Regions from separate parts of the Homo sapiens genome. Here region 1 is linked to region 2. A link means that fine-mapping ties the variant in region 2 to the expression of a gene that starts in the linked region. Tissue or cell type: testis. Region 2 holds a variant in brackets; the other region holds the start of a gene. All regions are shown on one strand. Distances are from middle to middle.

The links. PIP is the estimated chance that this variant, and not a neighbour inherited with it, causes the effect.
Region 1: it holds the start of SCG5, and the variant in region 2 is fine-mapped to the expression of SCG5 in testis (GTEx, PIP above 0.99).

The regions. Positions count from the first base shown.
Region 1 is chr15:32,637,416-32,645,599 of GRCh38, reverse strand. SCG5 (secretogranin V) reads right to left here and starts at 3,890. Exons shown (of 6, transcript NM_001144757.3): 1 at 3,822-3,890; 2 at 1,782-2,014. The coding sequence starts at 2,007. It overlaps ARHGAP11A-SCG5 (ARHGAP11A-SCG5 readthrough), which reads right to left. Exons shown (of 14, transcript NM_001368319.1): 10 at 1,782-2,014. It overlaps ARHGAP11A (Rho GTPase activating protein 11A), which reads right to left. Exons shown (of 12, transcript NM_014783.6): 12 at 5,659-8,184. The coding sequence ends at 7,755. RefSeq lists enhancers at 3,118-3,756, 3,757-4,397.
Region 2 is chr15:32,669,007-32,677,190 of GRCh38, reverse strand. The region is part of intron 10 of ARHGAP11A-SCG5 (ARHGAP11A-SCG5 readthrough); the gene reads right to left. All of the region lies in intron 2 of SCG5 (secretogranin V), which reads right to left. SCG5-AS1 (SCG5 antisense RNA 1) reads left to right here and starts at 4,126. Exons shown (of 4, transcript NR_135505.1): 1 at 4,126-4,201; 2 at 8,073-8,184. RefSeq lists an enhancer at 6,477-7,009. The variant CAG/G (reference allele first, on the strand shown) is at 4,564.

The DNA.
Region 1 (8,184 bases), 32 kb after region 2:
TTTCCTTATAGCCACCCCATCCACTCCTAAGCAGACTAAATTACTCCTGTTTGCTTCCACGGCGGCAGCTTGTGTGTACATCTATCAAAACACCTGCTGGGATGCACTGTCATAACTTTTGATGTGTGTCCCCACTTCCCTCTCCACTCAGACTGTGAATCTTTAGGGCAGAGCTGCACCAGTCTCCTGCCTAGTGCCTGGTATATAGTGGGTACTAAATAGTTGGATACTGGAGGGAATGGAGTCTCTGGATAAAGAGGCTTTTGATGCCCCGGGAGTGGCTGTTTCTTTTCCAGCACAGCTGATCAGGCCTCAGGTATTAGTGGAAACTCAGAGAACTCCATGACAACAGCTTAGGTGAATAACCAAGCACTTCCTGCCTTAAAAAGGTAGATATTTATTGTTTGTCTCAAAAGAGCTGGCCTGAAATATATAGGTGTGCTTGAAGTAACGGTGACAGATGCTGAGAAGGACTGAGATTCTCCCTAAAAGGGATGACAGGAAGCTCTGTCGGATTTGTTCTAATTCAAGCCATGTGCTAGGTTTGCATGCTTGCCGATTCAACGCATTTGTGTTAATCCACTCCTGAAATCAAATGTCAACCTAAACAGACTACAATCTCACCGAATTAGTTTTACTCAATGGCTTAAAACTATGGGTAACAAAACAGAAATAAGAATCATCTATCAACAATATTCATGGCATTCACAGAACCCTAGGGCAGATAGCATTTTTAGAAAATCACAGACTCTGGCAAAATAGTGCATAATCAATCTGTAGGGAACAAACAGCATTTGGTTGGTATGCTTTTAGAGATAATTCTCATTTTCCTTCGGACCCACTCCATGGGCAAATCCTTGAACTATAAGGAAATGCTCCCTTGCATTTAACTGAAATTAACCATGCTACTTCTTTAGGATTCTGCCTTAGTGGAGAAGGAGATCATTAGAATCAGAGGATAAAAAGCAAAGCATGGAAATAAGGAATCTGTCTAACGCTGCATCACCAGCTCATAGAAGCTAGATTCTCTTTATAAACAAATCATTAAACAACAAACAAATGAAGTACTGCTTTCTAATACAAGTATTATGACCACATTGCCAGAAACTTGGAAAACTTCAGGGGGAAAATGGTCTTGCCACCTTAAAACGATTTAATTATTCTTAATTTATTATTTAATAAAATTGTTATATTTTTAAATATTTTCAAAAGCTTTCACGTAAACTCTTAATGTCAGTACCTCTTTTGTCTCCTCTTGGGTATACTGGAGTCATTCCTAGGAATCAAGTCAGATCCTGTAGGTTCTACATTTTGAAGCTCTTTTACAAGTACTGGCTGGCATTGACTCAAAAGGCAGCTATCTGATGACACAATTTCCTGAAGATCAGCAGTGAGGAGAAAACATCATGTCTGGGTTCTAATCTTTCTTTAGTGATAACACTAGATGCTCCTTCATTCATTCAACAAACATTAATTGAGCACCTATTATGTACCAGACATTGTGCTAGGTGCTAGGGCTACAGCTATGAATTAGATAGATAAGGTCCCTGCTCTCACAGGACTTATAGTCTCATGTGGGTGTGTATATGTAAGTATGTAGACACTGTGTAGAAGAAGAAAGGGAAAACCATGAGAAAGTAGAGTCTCTTAAAAATTAGCTTCCTCCTCTGAAAAAAATAGGATAATAAAGGCATCTACTTATAAGGTTGTTGTGAGAAGTGTGCAAATATATTATTTAAAATGCTAACGGAAACTTCAAACCATCAGAACACAGTAAATACCTTCAATGCTCTGGGGGCCCACAAGATTCATGGCCTGGTGAGCTGGATATTCCACTCGGGGCCTGGCAATGCCCAATTGCTCCATAACACCATGAAGCAGCCTCTGGATATCTGCTTCTGAGACCCGGTCAGGGGTCCGGGGGCTGTAAGCAAATGCTGGAGTCCATCCAGATGCCAGCCAAAACAGTAGGCCAGATAGCATGGTAGAGACCATCCTGGAGACCATTGTCAACCTGCAGATAAAAGACCAAATGTATACTGATAGGCTACAATCGGCAATTGTGATAATACAATTATAATGATGCAACCACTCCAGGTTGTGGTTCGAGGACCACCCAGAAAGGGGTTGTAACAAAGAATCCTTAGGAGGTTGCTTTTGTCTTAAGTTTCCATGCTAGGCAGAGCATCATTGCAGAAAGGTATTAAACAAAACAGTTGCAGGTATCCAATTCCCTCTGTTTGCATTCTTGAGAAAGCTAGGCTGGAATGGCGGTTCTCACTCATAATTTTTATCCTCCTTGTAGCTCCCTGAAAGTTCTGCATTACTCCTAACTTCATCACTCTCTCCCTCTCTTACTAAAACAAATAAACCAAACTTGCTTACATTTTGAGAAAGAGATAGTGGCATCTTGGGTTTTCCCAGTCTCTGGGAATAAAAGTCTAACAGGAGGGAGTCAGGAAGACACAAATCAAGAAGCTCAGGAAGGTTGGGAGTGGTGGCAGGGAAACATTTCAGTTTAGCAAACATCCAATACGTTTGCGATCCTGAAAGGAAGGAAAATGTTCCTTAGATCCAGCCCTGCAATCTGCTGGGGTAGTTTGAGGTTTGTTTGCTCAGCCACATGCTGAGTGATCGTAGGCAAGTCCCTCAGTTTCCTCCTCTGCAAAACGGAGATAATTAAAGCATTTACCTTTTAGGGTTGTTGTGAGGGTGTGTGCAAATACATGTTAAGAGTGTTTAGGACAATGCCAGGCACAGAATGAGCCCCTATATTGCTATTATTATGTTGCTAACATTGCCTTAACAGTTCTGGAGGTTAGAATATGGGGAGGCAGTGGTGGTGAGAGGGAGTTAACTAGCCTGGGGGTGGGAGGGTCAACCTGTCCAAAATGTTGGTTTCTATGGGTATGTCTGCAAAACAAGTGAACATTATCCTTGCAGCTTACCCCACAGCTGCTTAACGTGTTTGGATGCATGCTTCAGGCAGCGGCCTTGCAAACCCTTTTTTTTTTTTTTTTTTTTTTTTTTTGAGACGGAGTTTCACTCTTGTTGCCCAGGCTGGAGTGCAGTGGCGCCATCTCGACTCACTGCAACCTCCACCTCCCAGGTTCAAGTGATTCTCCTGCCTCAGCCTCCCGAGTAGCTGGAATTACAGGCGCCCACAACCAAACCCGGCTAATTTTTGTATTTTTAATAGAGGCAGGGTTTCACCATATTGGTCAGGCTGGTCTCGAACTCCTGACCTCAGGTGATCCACCCCCTCCCCTCAGCCTCCCAAAGCGCTAGGATTACAGGCGTGAGCCACCAGGACCGGCGCAAACCCTCCTTCTAATCATTCTTCTACTGAGGATGGGGGATGGAGAGGTGGGAGGAGGCAAAATCGTGCATTTCCTTTACTGAAACAAAAATTTTTATACCCTCCAATTTCTTTTTCTGCAAAGAAAAGGCCTTTTCTAGCCACTAGATATAAAACCTTGCTCTCCAAAGAGCTGAGAGTAGCTGTTTAACAGCAAAATCTGCAATTCTGATGGAAAAGGCTGGAGGCAGACACGAGGCTCTCCATCTCCATCTTTCCCTTGTCCACTCTGAATGCAGGATGTCATCCCAGCAAACGCCGCTCTGATTTGATGAACTACACAATCTCCTCCCTCAGTACTCCCTTCCCCTTACTGATAGCCAAACATTCTAATCCCCTACGCATCCTTCGTCTGACCCCAGCCTCCACCTCAAGGATTTTAGCAGGACGCCCTCCCACAACTGGCAATACCAAATCTCGGGTTGGCGGCAGGCGGCCGAGCCGACATCAAAACTGTACTCACCGAGGGGCAGCCCGAGGAGCCTACTGCGGTATGGGCCTTGGTGGGGGTCAGGCCAGGAACGGGCGAACTGGAGAGCTAGTGCGTCACCCTCCTCCGCATCTTAGCTCCGCCCCGGCCCCTCCTCCAGCAGGTGGAAGCTGCCTCGCCAGGACTCCCCAGACTGCATCCCAGATAAGTGTGCCTCTCACCAGGAGCCGCACAGCTCTTCAACCCCCACATTCTGCATACAAACCTCTTGACTATGACATTTCCTAGAGACCCTCTTCAGCTCCATCGACCTCCATGTAAGTCATTCACCTCCTCAGTCTCAATTACAACGTGCCAGATCACCACTACAGCACACCTTTAATTTTGTCAACTTCTAGAATATGTTTTTTGTTTTTGTGTCTAAAGCCTTTCAGCTTCAAGAGGGAAGAGGCAATGAATGGTAGAGAGACAAAAGATGAAGTCCTAAGAACTTTTAATGGTGGCTATGATAAGGTATACCCTGCTCTGAGGGGCCTCTTACTAATCAGGAAAACTATGGGGATATTTAATACAAGAAGCCAGAAACTTCCATTAAAGTGATAAACTTGAAAATCTGTAGAAATATCAGCTCTGAGTGTTATTTCTAAACGTCCACACAAACCATCAAGTAAAATTCCACTTTGGCCTGAAGAGAAACCATACTCCCAGCATACTGTAGAAGTATGTCCAGGTAGTCCCAGATTCTTAAATAAGGGTTTATGGAGCACCTACTATGTGCAATCTTGAACACTGAAATTTGTTCAAATACTAAAATCAAAATGTAAAGCCATACAATAAATATGGCACTACAAATTTGATCAAGATGGAGGATGAGTAAAGAACCTGGGGGTCTCAAAACAAGTAACCTGATGAGGTTAGAATCCAGATCTATTTATCTTAGCTCTAGAGAGCAAATCCATTATCATCTACAGCAATTTTTATGCAATAAATAGAGGCTGGCAAAATTCATTTATGAGACACATGGCCTTTCATTTTGAAGCCAAGCCTCTTTCCCAGTACTTTTTCTTTCACGGATGCTCATCTGCTTCTTGCTTCTTGTTTCAATGCATGCTAAATCAACAGGACAAACACTATCCATTAAATGGCTCTAGGCTCACTGGCCATGCTGGAGTTAGTATTTATTATTGATGCACAGAGACTTTTTTCAATTCTGAGTTTTACTTTAGCTTTGTTCATTGTTATCTTCATTTTGTGGTTGAAAAAAATGAAGTCACTACAATTTACTGCTTTTGTGTTAAATTTAACTGAAATAGATCAAAATGCCTATGCTTCATTTGAAATTTGGTGTTTCAAAAATAAAACTTCATATATATTTAAGAGATCACAGAGGTTAGGTGCAGTGGCTCACGCCCATAATCCCAACACTTTGGGAGGCCAAGGTGGGAGGATCACAAGGTCAGGAGTTCGAGATCAGCCTGGCCAATATGGTGAAATCCCGTATCTACTAAAACTACAAAAATTAGCTGGGCGTGGTGGTGCATGCCTGTAGTCCCAACTACTTGGGAGGCTGAGGCAGAAGAATCGCTTGAACTCGGGAGATGGAGGTTGCGGTGAGCTGAGATTGTGCCACTGCACTCCAGCCTGGACGACAGAGTGAGACTCCGCCTCAAAAAAAAAAAAAAAAAAAAAAGAAAAGAAAACAAAAAACAAACTAACTAAAAAAGATCACAAAATTAAGGTTTAAATTCTGCCACAATTAAGAAAAACATGACTATTAAAATCCTACATTAAGTTCTTAGTGATCATATTATAGAATGTGGCCATGCAGTCTACTAAGTTCTATGTATTAAGTTGTTATTAGATAACCAAATTAATATTAGATCTTTATTTACATTTATAAGACAGTGAGAAGAACCCATGAGGTTACTGCACGTCCAGACACTTTCATATCATTTCCTCAAATATTCCATGAAGTTAGCAACATTATCTCTATTTTGTATAAGAAAAAATAAAAACGCATTAAATCAAGTTTAAAACAAAACTTTTCTGGCTCTCTAGTTACCCTACCTTCAAGCTAGTCACCTTCACATTCCTGTAATACTCCGTATAGCAGCTTTCAGCTAACAAAAATAGGAGTCACATGTGGTAGTTTTTAAAACAGACATGTTTCATTATTGATTCATCTCTCAGAAAAGCCAGTTCAGGTAGTATGTACAGTTAAACCCCTAGGACTTCTTACTGAATTAGTCTTCAAATTCAACATTTCATCCTTCCCTTGATGGATATAAAAAGACGTTAATGCATTTTTAAAATTTAAAAATTGTTTAAAGCAGACAACATATATCTGACTATATGAATATTTTGTCTCTACTTACAATTAGAAATGCCATAAACATCTACAAACCTATTTGATATCAAATAAACAAAGTAGAACCTAGCCAAGCAAACATCTGATGATTTGAAATTCCTCGTACATACTTATGCTGTAAGTCTGGTTGCTCCGAGTGGCATGAATGCTGCTCTAATCTGCTCCAACATCTAAACATGACATTCTAACAACCAATCTGAAAAACTACCTTTAGTGGTTGATTCTGTCTGCTTATTCCTTCCTCTACAACCTAGAGAATATGTTCTATTGTTCATAATACTCTTTCCTCAAAGATGTGTAATTTGTAATAATTTAAAATATAAATTTAGACAGATTTACTTGACAATTTGGTGCATGTTCTAAATGGCACTTTGAATTTCATGAGAGCCTTAGTCAAGTCATTTTCCAGAGAGTTATCTTTAATGTCTATGCTAAATAAATAACATTTACACACAGGACAAAATCATCATAGGTTTTTATCCAAGTAAAAAAGGTAAAGAGGTGCATCTACTATTTCAAATTCCAAAATCGAGCATCTACATATAAGAAATCACCTTGGTTAATTTTTTTCAAGATTATCCCTCTTTAAATAATTGCCAAATCTATATTGGACAGAACAGACACAAACGTGTTTGTGCAAATTATCTTTAAAAACATAGTATGGCTTAAAAGTTATCAATTATTTCCACATCATAATATATGAACATATTTTAGTCATTATTCTGCCTTAACCATTGTTCTTAGTTCGAGTGAACACAAGGTACACCTACTGGCACTATAAATGAAATTACTCTGCCCCAAATAAAAATAGAGTTTTAGGATGCTATTGAAGGAAATTAATTTCTAGGAATTTTGGCAAGGACAATAAACATTAATATAATTCCAGACATAAGATTTGCAGAGTTTATCTCTACCCTTTATATGCTAGAAATTTATTTATTTTAGAAACCTTATCTGACTTGGAGGAAATAGGCACAACTTGCTCCATTCTTTCTATCACACAAAAATATGTCATTTTCAAAAATTAACTTCTTATAAATCCAGTAAACAATTTCTTTAGAAAGGTAAAGTCTAGCCGGGCGTGGTGGCTCATGCCTGTAATCCCAGCACTTTGGGAGGCTGAGGCGGGCGGATCACAACGTCAGGAGATCGAGACCATCCTGGCTAACACGGTGAAACCGTCTCTACTAAAAATACAAAAAATTAGCTGGGCGTGGTGGCGGGCACCTGTAGTCCCAGCTACTCGGGAGGCTGAGGCAGGAAAATGGCATGAACCCAGGAAGTGGAGCTTGCAGTGAGATTGCGCCACTGCACTCCAGCCTGGACGACAGAGTCAGAAAGGTAAAGTCTAACCTCTGCTTTAAGAGATCACAATAAAATTAAAGTTTAAAAATTGCCATCATTAAGAAAAACAAAGAAGTAATTTGTACAAATAAAAATCTAAGTTGCTTGTACAGTGAAAAAAATGAAACATTTTCAATAGAGCAAATCTATTGCTTAACAATCATCCTGAGCTACAAACTAACATGTACATCATCCTGCAAGTCATACCAATTACTCACTTTATTTACATTAATGACAAGTATAACATTTACCAATTACAAATCTACAGGTTTACTTGTTGGTAGTAATTGAGTTTTTCCGATAGGATGTTTTGGAGAACCTTTGTACCAGGCCCTTCCTCTTTCTGATGGTCTCCTAAGGACCCTGTTATTTATCCCAGAAGAAATGCCCATGTTGTTATTTACAACTGGTTTTACTATATCATGATTAGTCAGATCATCCAAGGGAACCTTAACTTGGCCATCAGATAAGATCTTCTGTTTATAAACTGTAGTAGACCTAAGAGAAGCATTCACTGAATCTGGGTGCTTCCTCATCTTTAAGAAAGATTTCGAGGGTAACTCCATGCTTGACTTTGAAATTGCACCAATATTTGACTCTTCACATGACATGGACTTCTGTTCTTTAGGACCTGATTTGATACATGAAACAGAGGAATCTTTTGATGCACTTTCTATACAAGAG
Region 2 (8,184 bases):
AAGTATCTAGCCCAGATCTAGGTCACTGCTTTGTAATGAGAGAAACTGTAAAATATCTGCATTTAAAAAAAATGCTATTTCTTTTGTAAACTACCATATTATTTTTGTAAAATTTCCATGTGAATATGTAATATAAGGTATTTTATATAACCCATAAACATCTAAATATAGCCAATTTATCAACATTTATAATTATATTCTTTTTATATCCATATTCATATTTTATCTCTAGTCTATCATAATCTGATGGCTATATGTTAAAATCTACTACTAACAATAAGTGACTGTCATTCTCTTATTTCTTACTGTTTTTATCATTTTGATGCTGTACTAGTTAGCATATCCAAGGGTATAAATGTTTCATTTTAATTGTGTTGGCAATTGGCTGCTAAATATAAATTGATAAATCAGATGTTGATTTATAGTTCTATTAGCTTGCCACTCTCACTCTGTTGATTTGTGTTTAATTGGTAAATCTTTGATTATCCTTTTATTTTTAACCTTTCTGTATCTTTCTGATGATTCATCCAGCTCATTTGTGATAGCTACCTTCAGAGCTAGTGTAGGGATACCTATGATTCCACATTAACCCAATAGATGCAAAGGTTAGACATATCAGTACACTTGGTATTGATATATTTGAAGCTTTATATAATGTTGGCACTATAGACACCACTGTGCTTGCTATAGGGCAGGCTCTCTGGTGTGTCAGTACATGTCTCAACTTTTGAAAGCACCCTAGCATTAAGTGCCAGGAATTATCCAACTTGGCTCAAGGCAGAATGCGTGTCTTAATGCTCCATTAGTAATTAATGAAGGAAGCAAACAGTTTCTCTTATGGAAGGCCTGCCAAAGCTCCGTTTACCTCTGTGCACCAGTGCCATTAAAATGAATGCAGCACTTGTTAGGAAGCAACAGATGTTTAGCACTAAGCAGACAGATTAGAACACAGACTCTTTTTAAACTGCATTTAATGATGTCAGATCAAGAAACACTCACTGAGGTAGGAACTGAGGGAGATATGCAGAAGTAAAAAATGCTGTCCTTTGCACTCCAGGAGCTAGAATTTTATAGACAATTAAACAGGTATAGAAAATATAATAATTTTAATATTATACAGTTGCAAAGGGCCAAATGCAGTTATCTGGTTCATTATAATATTTAGGTTATATTGATCTATTGTACCTGAAGCCAAGTCAAACAAAATAATATGATGCTATGGATGCCATTTGGTCTATTCATCCCAGCCTCCTTAACTATCTTACTGCACTAACCAACAACAAATAATCTAAAAATATGCATTGAGCACATAATATATAATCAAAACCTGGGCTAGGTACTAGAGGGTCAGTGATGAACCAGATAAATGTAGGCTCTGCTCTCATAGTTCATAGAGAAACAAAAAGAAACAAACGTAATACAGCCAGTTGTAATGCACTGATAATGTAACCAGGATACGGCAGTGTGTCACAGTTGTGTAGAGGAGAAGTATCTAGCCCAGATCTAGGCCACGGAAGACTCCCTGTAGCAACATACTGTGTAGCAATAATTACGTTAGGTGCTATAGACGACATAAATGTGAAAGACATAGTTCCTGTTCTCTAGTTCGTTCTTCATTCTAGTTGGTTACCCATGACTAACACAATAAGCCAGTAGTACATAATAAGATATATTCCCAACATAATGTATTGTAGTATAGACAATAGATGGTGGTATAGAGAACAGACCATTGTACAAAGCTAGGTTGGAGAGAAATTAAGAAGTTCTTCTCTAAGAGTGTTGCTGAAACTCAGGAGTGAAGTGACAAGGATTGGAATTAGGGTGGCTGCAACATGAGTTAAATAAGATTTCTAGCAGTGCACAGGAGAGAGATGAGTCAAAAGCTTGTGAGGTTTCAAAATCTGATTTGAGAAAAGAATACCATTAATAAAGATAGGATCTTTCACTTACAGCTTTGAAATTATTTCAGGCAATTAATTAATCCTGTCCTGTGATGATGCTTTATTTATGTTTCCACCACAGCCATGGCACTCTAAAAATGTCTCTAGAATAAATGGAAAATATTTAATTCTTGCCAAATGAGTTTTAAGCCCAGTTGCGTTTATATAAACTTTGCTTTATATAATAAAATTGGTACCATGCAGCTGTTTATTTCTAAGCTCTAGATATCAAATCATTGGTAGACTTTCTTTGTATTGCCATGGCAATAAAGTTGCACTCAGATGTAATTGTCAAGGGAATGAGAAAGAAGGACAGTTGGTCTTATTTGAGTCAGAACCCTTAAATCTCTTTCTTGGCCTGTGCTGGAACCCTCCATAAAAATCTGCCAATCTTTTGACCGCATCCTGCTCTTCTCTGCATTCTCACCCTCTGCTATGTGCCTCCAATTCTCCCTTCTGTACGTATCCCTTTGAGGTTGGCAATTCAGCTGGGAAGTTGACCTGGTTGGTTTGAGTCTCTCCCTGGCCTTGGAGACCTGATCAACCTCAGCTCCAAGTTTTGCCACTCATGGTCTTGTTCGGTGTTAACAAAGCCCCCAACAGCACTCCCAAGGACAACCTCTAACAACTCCAATGATCGCTTGTCCAGAAGAGGGCACTAACTTTTCTGGTTACTTAAAAACTCCCTTGGGTTTCAAATCCATTTTCCTGTCTCTATGATTTTGAAGATCAGTTGTTAGTACCTAGTAAACAGAAATATGAAAATTAAATACCTTCTGACCCCCAAAGTTTTACTTGGCTCTGAACAGCCATGGCCTTTTTGTTGCACTGGTAGGGTTTTTTTCATTGTTTAATTTTAGAGTAAATCTCTGTTATCATATTTTATCTTGATATAATTTGACTCTCTAAAATGTGCATAAAAAACAAAATCCGAATTAACAGAGGTTTCCGATTATAGTACCATCTCACTTATCTCTTTAGAGAGAACGTGCTGTTTCATGTAGTATTCAGATCACTGAAGCATCGGTTTAAGATCAAGATTTATTTAACCATTTTAAAGGAGAATTTTCCACTATGAACATTAGGTAAATACTTTAAACAGCAGGAGAATATGACTTTGCCTGTTCTTGATAATTTGGGACTATTACTGGGAATATCAATGACTATACAGTGTTGTAACAGTGTATTCTCAGAGTATTAAAGGGCATTCGGATATAAAACTATATTAAATGGGCCGGGTGCGGTGGCTCACACCTATAATGCCAGCACTTTGGGAGGCAGAGGCGGGTGGATCACAAGGTTAGGAGTTCAAGACCAGCCTGGCCAAGATGGTGAAACCCCATTTCTACTAAAAATACAATTACAGGCAGGCGCCTGTAATCCCAACTACTCAGGAGGCTGAGGCAGGAGAATCACTTGAACTTGGGGAGTAGAGGTTGCAGTGAACCGAGATCATGCCACTGCACTCCAGCCTGGGCGGCAAAGTGAGACTCCGTCTCAAAACAAACAAACAAACAAACCTATATTAAATGGTCCCAGATGCAATAGTTTTTAATGTTCTTTGTCACCTCACTCCTTCTAAGTTATTAATTCTAGTCATCCCAAATCCTTTCCATAATGAAATACAATAAATTGAGAGTGCGCCTAGGCCCTGCAAGTCTCTTCTAATTTTACCCTCCCCCGCACAACACACACACACACACACACACACACACACACACACGGGGATCTTATCCAAATGTGGATTCTGATTCAAGGTGAAGGGTGGGGCCTGAGATTCTGCATTCCTCACAAGCTCCCAGATAGTGCAGATGCTGCTGGTCCATGAGCCACATTTTCAGTAATAAGGGGCTAGAAAATGAGAGAGCCAGGCTTATTAAAATTATATATAAAATGAGATAAAATTAGCTCCGAGAGAGTGCCTAGGTGATCTTGCTTTATGGAATTTGTGACATCGGTGTGGCTGCTAAGAACCTTCTTAAAAGTCTGCAGTTTCAGATAAAGGAGCTGTCACTGCCGTTGTAGTCCTTTTACTTAAAGTTTTACTCTACAGAGGCACTTGCTCACACTTTGCAAGGAAAGGATCCTGCTGCCCCATTTTTTACTTACGCTAGTTCTGTGGGAATTAGAGGTAAACACCTCCCTTGAACGTGAGTTCTCATAGTATAAGCGATGTCCGTTGGAGAGCCTGATGATGTCCCACCACGATGCAACGGCTCTCCTGGCTGGGGCTAGTGGAAGCAGTTTTGATGGAAGTTAAGGTTGGTCAGAAATTAAGAACATAAATGGGACCTGCGTTACTTCGTCACTCTGTCTCTTTTTTTTTTTTTTTTTTTTGTGATGTTATGGTTTCAACAGTTTCAAAGTGCTTTCATCCTTATTAAAAACGTCCTAGTGAGGTCAGTAGGACAAGAATCACTATTCATCATTCTAAGTGAGAAAGTGAGACCTGGGGAAAGGTTTCTTGCCTAAAGCCACTCAGCAAGTTGGTGCTATTTTGGATTCCAGCCCTGTGTTCACTCTACAGTGGCACTGAGAGAGCCCCCACGAGGCCTTCTGCGTCCATTCATACCCTTTCCAGTGCGTTTCCGTCTTCCAAAGATGAGCTGGAGCTCCACAGCCA[CAG/G]TTAGTAGAATGACCTGTCGGGGTACCTGGGGTCTCTCATAGTTTCCAGGTCACTCAGGGGATCTCCGGTGTCAGTGACTACTGCAGAGCCAGGCCCCGGCAAAATGGCTCTGGGATGGGACGCCACCTGTGGGCCTCGCCACCATGGTTCCTTCGCACCTGAGTGCCCACCTCACGCTGGAGGTTTGGAACATCCGGACAACCCCTGCCCTCCAGACTCTGCCACACAACTTGGGAACACCCTGACAAGCCCGCAGCCAGCATCGTCCCATTCGCACCCCTCACGCTGCCTGCAGCCCTGGGGATTCATGCAATTGGGCACTGGCGCTGGGCAATAAAGAATTGTGGTGGGGCAGCCTGGTGCCAGGGAGCCAGTCGCCCACCTCGTAAAAAGGGAGTTCTGTGAGGAGCGTCTGGCAGGGAGCGGGCACAGGCCCCTGAATACCAGCCATTCAGCTGAAGGGAACGGGTCCAGCAGTTTTCACTTATGTTACCACAAACAGCAGATGCTAAAAATACACTGCGGTCTCGATACATCATTCAGAAAGCGACGGACCAGTTTTCCTTTTGTCAGCGGTCTGGGAGCCTGAAGCAGTCGGATGGGGCATTCCAGACACCGCCTGGCCTCCTTTGGTTTCCCCTCAGACTCTGACAGAGCTGAAGGTGCCAGCGCGAGAGCGCCCGAGGAGACCAGGAGAGAAGGTGGAGAGGCGGCAAGGCTCCCCAGGCTAAGGGAAGGCAAAGCGGAGTGGGGCGAGGAAGGGGCGGGGTGGCTCCTTCTGGAGGCCACAGAACAGCCTGGGACTCCCTGAGGCGACACCGGCCGCAGGCACCAGGCACTGGGGGCTAAGAGAAACCCCGAGACCCAGAAATCTCCTTCCTAAGGTCCAACTTGCCCCAAAAGTTGTTTTTTCTTTTTTTTTTTTCACTACTTGAGGTAAACACATACACAATTTTACAAAAAGCGCCATCACTTGTCCACAATCAGAGGACTCATTCGTCAGCTTCTATACAATCTGCGCTTGGTTTCTCCTTCTCAGTAAGCACTCAGGCAGTTCCACCACACGCTATTGTCTCCACAGGAAAGAAGAAGACAGAGGCAAAGAGAAAGAGCAGGAGAGGGAGAAACAGATTGGCCCCTAGGAATGGGGAAAGGAGGCTGAAAGAAATGGCCAACATGAGGGTGGAACTTCATATTTTAGATGTCTGACTCCCAGTTTCTGCTTCCTCCATCCCAAGTAACTGAAGTGAGATAAAAGAAAAGAACAGAGTCATTTTCACACATCCTTTCTCAAAATTCACTCTTATTTATAAGACCTTTTGGCCTTGACTCCTGGTGAGAAATGAGGGTCCCAACATTCAAACCTATTTATGAAAAGCAAATATTTTCATTTACTGAGGACCCACAGAAAGAGAGCACTTTTTATACAAAGAGGCTTTTATAGCTTCCTGTTGTTAGGGCCCTGAGTTCAAGTCCACATTCTGCCACACACTGTGGGATTCTCATAACCTCCCAATCTCACTGGACCCCAATTCCTCCCCTTTTAACCCGGGGATAACATGCTTGTGGGAGGATACAAATCGGATACTGTATGTAAAATGCTTACCTCAGTACCTGGTATGTAATAAGCACTCCATGAACGTTAGCTGCTTTTCCTATCTAGTCAACATTTCCTAACAGCACAATTAACAGAGCCGAAATTAATGATCCTGCATATTTTTCATTGTGGTGATCATGGTCCTGTGTTTGAGGTATTGAGCAACAGGGCTCAGGACATTTGAGCTTTTTACTAACATCAGTGCCTCCTCATCAATTCAAAACTAAATAAAGTCATGCTTTGCCTAACAAAGTTACAAATCCAGGCAGCATAATCCCTTCTCTCAAGGAGCTTGCTCTCCAATAATAGGGGACAAAATATGTCCACATAAACACACATCTGATGTTTGTGCCTGGTGGAAGAGATCATGAGCACTAGCGGAGAAGAGAAATTTGTCTCCCATAATGGGAAAATGAACACACAATAGTTTATACTTAGAGATGGATATTATCACCTCAGCTCTCCTCCCTAGTAACAGAATTTAGTTTAAGCTGTTTAGAATGGTGAGGGTTTATGTTGCAATATCCACATTCTCTAAACTCACATGACAAGTGACCCCCAAAGCACACAGCATTTGGTAATTGAGAAAAACAAAGGAATGATTCTATCTGTGCTGAATTGGCTAATTCATTGACTTGCCTCAGGGCAGAGGGCTGGCCCTGGCAGTTTGCTAGAGTGATCCTTCTGCTCTGAATTCGAGCCTGGTCCCTCACAGGGACTGCCCCACATAGCCGGCAAGGGCAGACACCCTGGCTGGCACTATCCTGTCCTTGTAGGAGAGATCTAAATTGGGTTGAGCCTGTTGGCAGATAAGCAAAATGAAACCCATTCGGATATTTTGTCTTGAAAGGCATTTGTTTTCATTCCTTCTCTTTCTTCTTCTGCTTTTCCCCCTCATACTAGGATCTAAAAAACTCAGGCTCCTTGGGGACCAAAGCCAACATTATCATCATCTACTCAGAGGCACGCAAACAGTGAAGGCAGAGACGCAAATTCTGAGTGCACTGCATTTGTAGCTTTCACATCTACATGTGGTCCCAATTTAGGATCACAAGCAGAGTTGTTTATTTTAGAAAAGCTTTTTAGTTAACTTTTAAGGTATTTTGCTTAAGCATTGCTTGCTTTCCAAAAGGAGAAAACGTGTATTTTTTTTTTTTTCTGAAGCGGTGTTTGTTTTGGCTGTTTACTCATTTGCAAAAGTTCAAATTTTATCCTATGAATTTAACTAATTTTTCTGTAGTCACCACAAACCCCACCCCCTCTAACACATACACACAAAACCCCAAAATAAAATAATCTGGAAGTGAAGCATTTTTAGGAGAGGTGTGAATTTAGCAGGTTTTGAAAAAGCCGTTTCAAATAGGTAATTTGCAATAGCACTTTTAGCTCCTTCATGTAACTTTTATTTGCCGTCTGAAATGAAGTCTCAACTTGGCAATTTGTATGAAGGCTAAGCATGTCTTTATACTAAGGTTAAGGCTCATGTTTGTCCTTTAAAAACTTTATTTTATAATTCTTGCTGAAATTATATGGCTTAGCTGAGGGTCAGAGTGGAGCTTAAGTTGAGGTATCAGTTATTATTGAAAAAATAACGGGATATAGAACTGTGGTGGTGGTGGTTGGGATTCGGTGAGGATATGGACACAAAACTGTGAAAAAGTAAAAATATGGACTTGGGCTCTCTAGCATCTGGTTCCATATACAGGCCTACCGCCTCCAATTATCTAAAGCTCCCACTTCATCTTCCTTTCTGAAACTACACTTACTTATGACATCATTTGTCCAGAACCTGAGCCCCACCTCTCTGTTCTCAATGACATAGCAGGTCCTATGTATCATTCCTTTGGGTAAGCTTCTCTACTAACATGATAATGAGTGCTAATTAACATGTAGTACTCTGCTCCTGTAGGATTTGCAACTTAGAGGATTTCTGGGATAATTCTCTTAAAGTAGTGACTTCACCAACAGGAATTCCAGGCCCCCTGGTGTGCCAGCTCAAGGGATAAGCAGAGTATGTCGGG